2 separate regions of the Homo sapiens genome follow, and region 2 is reported to be linked to region 1. Evidence: microRNA targets listed by miRTarBase, many of them from high-throughput screens and not tested one by one. Region 1 holds a microRNA gene; the other region holds the end of a gene's coding sequence. Distances are from middle to middle.
The links. The annotated mature microRNA hsa-miR-6775-3p reads AGGCCCUGUCCUCUGCCCCAG and lies in region 1 at 1,903-1,923, opposite strand. An mRNA with a match to its seed (bases 2 to 7 or 8) in the 3' UTR can be bound and repressed. Matches are read on the target gene's strand: a 7mer-m8 pairs with bases 2 to 8, a 7mer-A1 pairs with bases 2 to 7 and ends in A, and an 8mer does both.

Region 2: miRTarBase lists SLX4 as a target of hsa-miR-6775-3p. Seed matches in the 3' UTR shown: 7mer-A1 at 1,520-1,526.

The regions. Positions count from the first base shown.
Region 1 is chr16:87,832,690-87,837,062 of GRCh38, forward strand. MIR6775 (microRNA 6775) reads right to left here and starts at 1,971; the gene lies at 1,903-1,971. SLC7A5 (solute carrier family 7 member 5) reads right to left here. Exons shown (of 10, transcript NM_003486.7): 8 at 3,809-3,958; 9 at 1,725-1,902; 10 at 1-336. The coding sequence ends at 281. It overlaps SLC7A5-AS1 (SLC7A5 antisense RNA 1), which reads left to right and starts at 3,576. Exons shown (of 2, transcript XR_007065175.1): 1 at 3,576-4,113. RefSeq lists enhancers at 1,342-1,896, 3,988-4,373 and a silencer at 1,914-2,208.
Region 2 is chr16:3,578,445-3,582,817 of GRCh38, reverse strand. SLX4 (SLX4 structure-specific endonuclease subunit) reads left to right here. Exons shown (of 15, transcript NM_032444.4): 15 at 125-1,637. The coding sequence ends at 476. LOC105371060 (a long non-coding RNA gene) reads right to left here. Exons shown (of 2, transcript XR_001752061.3): 1 at 3,765-4,373; 2 at 1,597-3,431. Among named protein-coding and RNA genes, the nearest start is that of NLRC3, 3.2 kb to the right of the region's middle. RefSeq lists enhancers at 1,375-2,170, 4,072-4,251, 4,282-4,331 and a silencer at 3,532-3,631.

The DNA of each region.
Region 1 (4,373 bases):
ATAAGTAAACAAAGGAGGGAAGGGAAAAAGGGCCCAAGGAGACCAAAAGCTGCTCCTGGGCAGGAGCACAGGCACACCTGGGTCCCTGGCCCTCAGTTGAGGGATGAGATTCGTACCAGAGTTTTCACAGCAGCCTCCACTGCCCGACCTGGGAGGGACGGCGAGGGACTGGGATGGGCAGCTGAGCTGTGGGTTGCGGGGAACCGGAGTGGGTTCGAGGAGGTGATCTACTTTAACTGGCCTCTGCGCATGCTCCTCCGGCAGCCACTCGGCCTCCTGGCTATGTCTCCTGGGGGACCACCTGCATGAGCTTCTGACACAGGACGGTCGTGGAGACTGTCAGGAGAGAAGACAGCTGTGTTAGCCTGGGGGCTGGGTAGGCACCCGTGGGACACGGGGGCGTGAGCTGGGGCTCCCCCAGCCCTGCTGTCACCAAACCCAGCGCCGCTGCCCAGCGCTGGGATTTTAAGGAACCTTCCCTTGTGTACTTGCGCATGTGGGTGCCGGGTGCCCGAGGCGCTGTCTTCAACTGAAATGCGGAAGTGCCACATCCCACTCGGCCCACCCCTCGCCTGCTTCAGAACCCTGGGGAGGCAGAGTGCGGCCCCTGGGGCACACGAACCAGGCCCTGGTGTCTCAGCAAAGTGCAACGGGGGGATGACAGGCCTTCCTGCAGGTCCACACCCGGGCCACCACCTGGACACATGCCTGGACTGTTCACAGCAGGCAGGGCCGGAGGGGCCAATCTGCTAACGGGTCCTCGGAAGACCTGTCGCGCCTGGGACTGTCTACAGAGACATCACTCTGTGGAGGGGGACTGCTTTCAGGATAGAGACGGGGGTTTGCTTTAAGCTCTTGGTGTCCTGAATGACAGTTAATGCAGATCCCACTGCAAAGCTTGAGGCAAATGTTCTACCATGACCCTGGCGGTGATCAGAGTGTGGGGTAGGGGTGGGGGGTCTCCCTGCCTGTGTTGCTGCCATCCCGGGAATTCTCCAAGCCACCCAGTGACATGGGGATCAGCATGTAGGCCCGCAAGCACCCCGGCCTTTTTCTACGAGCCTGGCCACATTTGCAGGCGCTGAGGACGGGGTCCTGAGCTTGGTGACAAAGCACCCCTGGGGCTGCCGCTGCACACAGGGCCGGGGGGCGGGTTTCTCCTTCTGCCTTTTTTTTTTTTTTTGAGAAGAGTCTCGCTCTGTCGCCCAGGCTGGAGTGCAATGGTGCGATCTCGGCTCACTGCAACCTCCGTCTCCCGGGTTCAAGTGATTCTCCTGCCTCAGCCTCCTGAGTAGCTGGGATTACAGGTGTGTGCCACTACACCCAGCTGATCTGTGTATTTTTAGTAGAGACAGAGTTTCACCATGTTGGCCAGGCTGGTCTTGAACTCCTGACCTCAAGTGATCCGCCTGCCTCTGCCTCTTTCTGCCTTTCTGGGTAAGTCTGCTGTGTCCGCTGGTGGCAGCCAGCAGGATTTTGTTACTTGGCAGCAGTAGCCTGGTTTTCCGGAATCCCTCGTCCTGAGAGATTAGCTGGTGCTGCGCTGTGTGTCTTATCCCTGAACCATGTGGGCTGCGTGTCACTGGCGGACACTGCAGTGACCTGAACCCTCCTGCCACCCAACACGCTTCGCCCCATGTGGGTGGAGACGGCCGACGCCTCTCAACTCCCTTCGCTGCCCAGGGCAGAGGGTACCACGGGCTGTGGGCCAGCGAGATACTCACAGATGCCCTGGAGGAGCCACTTGGGCTTGTTTTTCCACCAGACCCCGAAGAAGTAGACGGGCAGCCCGCTGAGGATGATGGTGAAGCCGATGCCACACTCCACGGGTGTCTTCCAGAAGGAGACGGCGATCAGGAAGAGGCAGGCCAGGATGAAGAACACAGGCAGGGCCAGGTTCACCTGGGGCAGAGGACAGGGCCTGGGTGAGCCCTCTCCTGTCCAGCCTCCCTCCCCCATGCCCCGAGGTTCCTCAGCCCTCCTGGGCCCTCCACACCCACGGCTGCTGACTTCCAGGTCACCAAGATGCGATCTGCACTCCATCTGCCTCACACACCGGGCTGTCCCGCCCTCGACTCTGCATACAGTGCTGGGCATGTTGCCAGGGGCTCAGGCGGCTTATGATGAGGGATGGAAGGAGACAGCTTCGTCTCCCGAGGCCTCCCACGGGCAGGGAAGGTCACGGCTCCATTCCCACATCACAGGCCTGGAAACCCTGAGCCGCCAGGACGCACAGGGGCCTGATGCTTCCAGGAGACAGTGGCCACCCACTAATAAGCCAGGAGACCACCCTCTTGGAGACGCCGCTGTGGACAGCGCTGAGCAAAAGCCCATCCCTGAAGCTGCAGCCTAAACTGTCACCTTCAGCAGATGAGCTCCACCCGGCACAGAAGCCAGGCAGGGCTGCAAGGAGCCTGCAGGCCGCAACCTGCGGCTCGGCATGGCTGGGGGATTGACTCAGCTGTCCTGAATCCATACTTGGACAGGGCACCCTGGGAGATGCAGGGCTGACCACAGGTCCCAGCCCATCAGTGTGGGCTGCATGACTGCCCTGTCCCCAGGGAACAGACGCCAACCCGTGCCCAGGCTCACAACAGTGGGTAGAGCCTACCCCATGCCCAGGTCCCCATGGGGGCTGAGCCCCCGCTGTGCGCAGTGACTGCCCTGTGCCCTAGGCACTGCCCCAGGCTGGCACAGCAGGCACAAGCTGGTGCCCATGTAGGGCGGCTCCTCCCTGCCCTCTGCAGCCTTCTCTTGGGGCAGCATCTGGGTTCTTGTGCTGACTGTATTTTAAAGCCCCTGTTTTTTTTGTTTGTTTGAGACGGAGTCTCACTCTGTCGTCCAGGCTGGAGTACAGTGGCGCGACCTCGGCCTCCCAGGTTCATGCCATTCTCCTGCCTCCACCTCCCGAGTAGCTGCAACTATAGGCGCCCGCCACCACGCCCAGCTAATTTTTTTGTATTTTTAGTAGAGACGGGGTTTCACCGTGTTAGCCAGGATGGTCTCTATCTCCTGACTTTGTGATCTGCCCGCCTCGGCCTCCCAAAGTGCTGGGATTACAGGCGTGAGCCACCGCGCCCAGCCTAAAGCCCGTTCAACAGCATTCACAGGCACCCCCGGGGCCCCCAGGCTTCGGGAACACAGAGGGAGAGATGGTCCGGGCAGGGAAGCAGGGGCTACTGTGACAGCCATAGGCCAGCTGAGTGACAAAAGCTGCTGGCTAGCAGCCACCAGGGGCTCTGGCCTCTTGTTCTGTGTCAGGGCCAGGGCGGCGGGACTTGCTGGGCCCCAGGCAAGAGCATGGCCTCTGCTGGACGGCCCCGTTTTTGGAGAAGGCAGCCCACGGATAACAGCTACCCCTCTGAATGAGCCGCTGGGGACGGGGAGAGTCCAGGAGAGTCCAGCTGGGCCCAGGCGCTCCTCGGGCCGGGTTCCCTGCATTCCTCCTGCCAGCACAGCCCCGACGGCCCTTTGAATGCTGCGCCAGGCCCGGCTCTGCCCCGCCCCTGCCGGGGCTCACCACCGCCCACCTATGACTGCAGTGTCCTTATCTGCTTCCCTCCACCCAACGGAGCACAAGCTCTGTGCCATCTGCTGTCCTTTGAGGAACCCCGGCTCCTGCAGTCACACTTGGCACCCTCGTAGCTGGTGGTCAAGTCATCACCGGAATTAGTCGACCCAGGTGCATGCAGGCAGGGGCAGGTCCAGAGGCTGAGCTGGGATGCTGGCTCCCAACTCAGGGTCCTTAGGACCCACGGACCCTGCCTCTGTGAAGGGTGCCTGGGTGAGCGGGAGGCCCCGGGCTCACCTTGATGGGCCGCTCAAGCTCAGGCTTTCTGTGGCGCAGCCAGATCATGCCGATGATGGCCAGGGCCACGCAGAGCCAGTTGAAGAAGCTGAAGAAGTTGATGACGGAGAAGATGTCCTTGGAGAAGGCGTAGAGCAGCGTCATCACACACTGGAAGAGAGAGGCGGCTGGCTGAGCCCTGGGGCCCACGAGCAGGGCTGTGGACGGCCGTGGTGGCCACCGGGGACTGTCCAGCCTGGCTGGGCCCAGCTGAGCACCAGGGAATTTTGTTTTAAAGGAGAAACCTCATCTGAGCAACATGCAAGGTCTTGAAGGAGGAAAGGAGGGAAGGAGGGAGGAGAGGAGGAGGGAAGAGGCGGGGAGGAGGGAAGGAGGGAGGAGAGGAGGGAAGGAGGGAGGAGAGGAGGAAATGGAGACCACATTTGGGTTAAGGACAGGTGAAGAACACAGTGTACATACACAGCTGGGCTCTGCTGGACTGTGGCTCTGTGTGCGAGGGCCACAACCTGACCTAACCCAGTGGTCACCAAGAAAACAGTTTCTGTAACCCCCGGCACAGCCGTGC
Region 2 (4,373 bases), 84 Mb from region 1:
GGGGATCGTGCCACAGGCCAGGCTCCATGGGACCCGTAGACACCTTCCTTCCTTTAAAGAGGCTCATGGTCTCAGGGGCTGGAGAGAAAGGGGTTGCACAACGTCCTGGTCTGGCTCTTTTCAGTTCTTCCTCCTGTGAGTTTGGAGCGGCATTTGAGTCTGCAGGTGAAGAGGAGGGCGAGGGGGAGGTCAGTGCCTCGCAGGCAGCCGTGCAGGCGGCGGACACAGACGAGGCGCTGAGGTGCTACATCCGCTCCAAGCCGGCCCTGTACCAGAAGGTGCTGCTGTACCAGCCCTTTGAGCTGCGGGAGCTGCAGGCAGAGCTGAGGCAGAACGGCCTCCGTGTGTCCTCGCGCAGGCTGTTGGACTTCCTGGACACCCACTGTATCACCTTCACCACTGCCGCCACCCGCAGGGAGAAGCTCCAGGGCAGGAGGCGGCAGCCTCGGGGCAAGAAGAAGGTGGAGCGGAACTGATGGGGCCATCCCGACCCCACCCCAACCTGCCATCAGCAGCCCCCACCCCCGCCATTTGCAGGGAGGACCTGGGACACCCAGCGTGGGTCAGGCCTCCACAGGCATTTCTGGGCCTGGGGACCACATCAGCTCTGCGCTGTGATGATGACCACAGCCCAATCCAGGGCTTCCTCCTCTGGGCTCTGCTTTCTAGGGTGGCATTTGGAGCATGTCACCCACTGGATTTACAGACTCCAGCCCCTTCCTCTGTCCGTGCTCACAGTGTGTCTCCCTTTTTGGTTTTCTTTTTTTTTTTCTTTTTGAGACAGTCGTGCTGTGTCACCTAGGCTGGAGTGCAGTGGCACAATCTCGGCTCACTGCAACCTCCGCCTCCCGGGTTCAAGCAATTCTCCTGCCTCAGCCTCCCAGATAGCTGGGACTACAGGCACACGCTGCCACGCCCAGCTGATTTTTTATATTTTAGTAGAAACGGGGTTTCACCATGTTGCTCAGGCTGGTCACAAACTCCAGAGCTCAGGCAATCCGCCTGCTGCGGCCTCCCAAAGTGCTGGGATCACAGGCGCCAGCCACTGCGCCCGGCCCAGTGTGTCTCCCTTAACCCAAGAGGGCCCTCAGCTGTCCCAGGGGGCAGTGGGCCATCACCAGCTGGCCAGGGCATGGCCTATTCTGCCACATTTGCCACCCTCTGAGCCCACCAGTCCTGGGCACAGCTGCCCTACATGTCTGTCCTGAGATGGACGTCAGGTCCAGCCTGCCCCGGCAGCCCGGGCCCGTCCTCCTCAGCACTCAGGCCAACCCCAGCCACCGCCAGCCTGAGACCAGGTGTCCTGAGGCTCCCTGCACTGCCACAGCCCAGATGCAGTTCTCCTGACCCAGCCGTGCTACCCGGACACTTGTCATTGTTACCAGCAGTCTCCAAACTGGACAGTGCACAAGGGCCCAGAACAACTCTGATGCCACCACAAAACAAACATGTTCACTAGCGGATTCCATTCTTTGGGTTAAAGCTGCCTCCAGCCTCAGGAGCAGTGTGGAGGAAGATGAGGGCCAGGAAAGAAGGAAACCTTGGTTTCTCCATCCTTGTGAATGTCCTCGTCTGTTTCAAATACAGTGCAGTCAGTTTTATATGATGTGCAATAAACCAAAAAGGCTTTATTAAAATCTGGCTGCCACACTCCAGGGAGACCACGAGCGAAACGGGGGACCTGGAGGCACCGTGGCCCCTCAGCCCGTGCCCCACGCCTGCAGAAGTCCCCACCTTGCACCTGCCCTTTACTTTGGAGTAACCTGGGCCTGCTGTCTCCTCATTTCAGTTCCCAGACCAGAGATGCAGATGTTCATCCATTAATCCACACACCCGTATCCAACAGAGCCCTGGCTGGGTGCCAAGCTCCAGCCCCCGCACCTCAAAGTGGGGCCCAAGCACCCCCAGCTGCTGCCTCAGCCGGGAGTTGCTACAAAAGCAGATTCAGGCCCCACCCCACAACTCACCAAGACAGCACATGCCTTTACCATTGCGTCCGGTCCAGTGGAGGAGACAGACGCTGGCCTATCCCAGCCTGGTGGGGAGTCGGGCTCCAGTGGCTTGAAGGGCCGTGTCAGGGACAGCCTCCCAGAAGAGGGGTTTGTGAGCTGCATCTTAGGGCTCAGCAGCATTTAGGGGGTGAAATGTGATTTCTGGCGCACATACTATGTCCTGGCACGTGAACCAGCGGAGAGGCCCAGGCCTCCCAGCTTACGGTGCCCGGGGCGAACAATTTGAGAGGCTGAGATCAGCTGTGATCAATCTGAGGCTGGCCTCTGGCCTGTTTCGGAAGGCATCACGCACTGCTTCCTTGATGGGCTGATCCCCCTCCCTGGTGTTAGGGAAGCGAGAGGGAGTGGTGCAGGTGGGGGACTCGGGGCCCCTGTCCGGCCTCGCAGGGTTTGTGGTTTGGGGAAGTATGTGTTATGTGCCATGACTTGAAAGTTCAGAACTTCAAGGCTGGTAAAGATGGGTTGGGGGAGGGGTTCCAAGTAGTTAACAAGCTGGGTTAGGAGCCTTGAGTGCAGTGTGAGCCCAAGGCCAGGGGAGGCATGGCCTGGGGACTGGATTCGAGCCTTGTGGTGACCTTGGATTCAGTTGGGGCTGCTGGACGCTCCCTGGGCTGACAGCGCTGGGCAGAGGCTTGGTTTATGCACTGCCACCCAGCCAGGGGACTGGATGCTGGCCCTGAACCTGTACAAAGCAGCATTTCCTTGTCCTGAAACAAGCTGTGAAGCAGCTGATTCCTCCAGAGGGAAAGGGTTGAAGGAGTCACTGCAGGAACCCACAGAGGCGTGGTGGCATCCAGGAGTAGACCTGGCCCCTGCTACAGGGATGACGCTGACCCGGGCAACATAAAACTAGGTCCAGTTGACAGATGGAAAATGCCTTCTCACAGCGCCTGCAGCAAGACTGGCAGGCAATGGGGCCTCTTCATGGACAAGGCGAGAGAGAGTTACCTTCCAGGAGTGACTGAGAAGGAAGCTGGCATGCCGGGTGCGGTGGCTCCCACATGTAATCCCAGTGCTTTGGGAGGCCAAGGCAGGAGGATCACTTGAGCCCAGGAGTTTGAGACCAGCCTGGGCAACATAGTAAGGCCAAGTCTCTATTTTGAAAACAATATTAAAAACATTTCTAAAGGGGGAGAATAAAAGACTGGCAGCAGAACTTTCACTGGTAACAACTAAATCAGAAAACGGGTCTGTCTATGCCTCACTGTAATATGAACAGGCCTCCAGGCCTGTCCCACTTTTGGTGGCCCCAACCTGGCATGGCTTGGGCACAGCCCCTCAAGGCAGTCACAGGGGAGCCACACCCCAGCCTGGGCCCAGGCAAGGGCACTTACAAAGAAAGAGCCTGCAGGCAGGGGCCTTGCGCTGTTGCTGAGTTAGGAAGGGCTGAGGTCGCTTCCTGTCTGGCTGACCCCAGCTCTGGGTGGACAGAAAGCCCCAGAGTGAGAACAGTTAGGGAGCCCCCAGCCCAGCACCCCCACCTCCACCAGGAGCCAGGAGGACGGCCCACCTGGTTCTCAGCAGAGCGGGCAGAGTGGGGAATGGGACCAGCCCTGTGTGGACTGATGGACATTCCTGCGAGGGGGAGGAACGGGCGGGGCGGGGCGGGGCGGGGCTGGGCTGGGCTGGGTTGGGCTGCTCCCCAAGATCCCGTGGATGAGGCTGTGTCCTCTCAGGCTCCGCATCCATCCCCCTGAGCCACAAAGGGAGGCAGTGTGAGCCTCTGGCCCCTTTTATGTGACGGATACCCACCGGGCCCTGTGGTTTCCAACATCCTGTGGGCGGCCTGGTTTCAGGCGCCTTTGTTGCTCCCCACAGCCGAGGCTGCAGCTGCTGGGTCTGCACTCTGCCTGCCTGGAGCCTCGGGCAGCCTTCTCGAGGGTCCATCGTGTCCTCCCAGCACCCAGCAGGTTCCTGGGTGCTCAGAAAGCATTGTTGGGAGGGAGGGAGAGGAAGGAGGGACAAAAGAAGGTAGGCAGGCAGGGGAATGTGCAGGAGCACTTCTGGTCTGCTGCCTCAGTTCCCTCCCCCCCATCACCCACACAGGCTCTGGGGAACCAGCTAACCCTCCTACCTCCCCTGAGCCACAAGCTGCTCTATGAGTCCAGACCCACTACTCTCCTGCTCTACAACCATTGCTGGCTCCCACTTGCTTGCTGAGGAAAATTCAGACCCCAGGACCCCTGTCCCTTGGCTCCCACCTTGTCACCTCCTTCCCTCAGTGGCCCCATGTTGCTTGCTCCCTGTCCCCAGCGGATGTCCCATACTTTATTGTAATTTTTCTCATGTGGCTTGCTCTGGGCCATGTCCTTCCCCCTCACGCCCTTCCCTGTCAGGGCAGGCCACCCACTGAGGTCCACT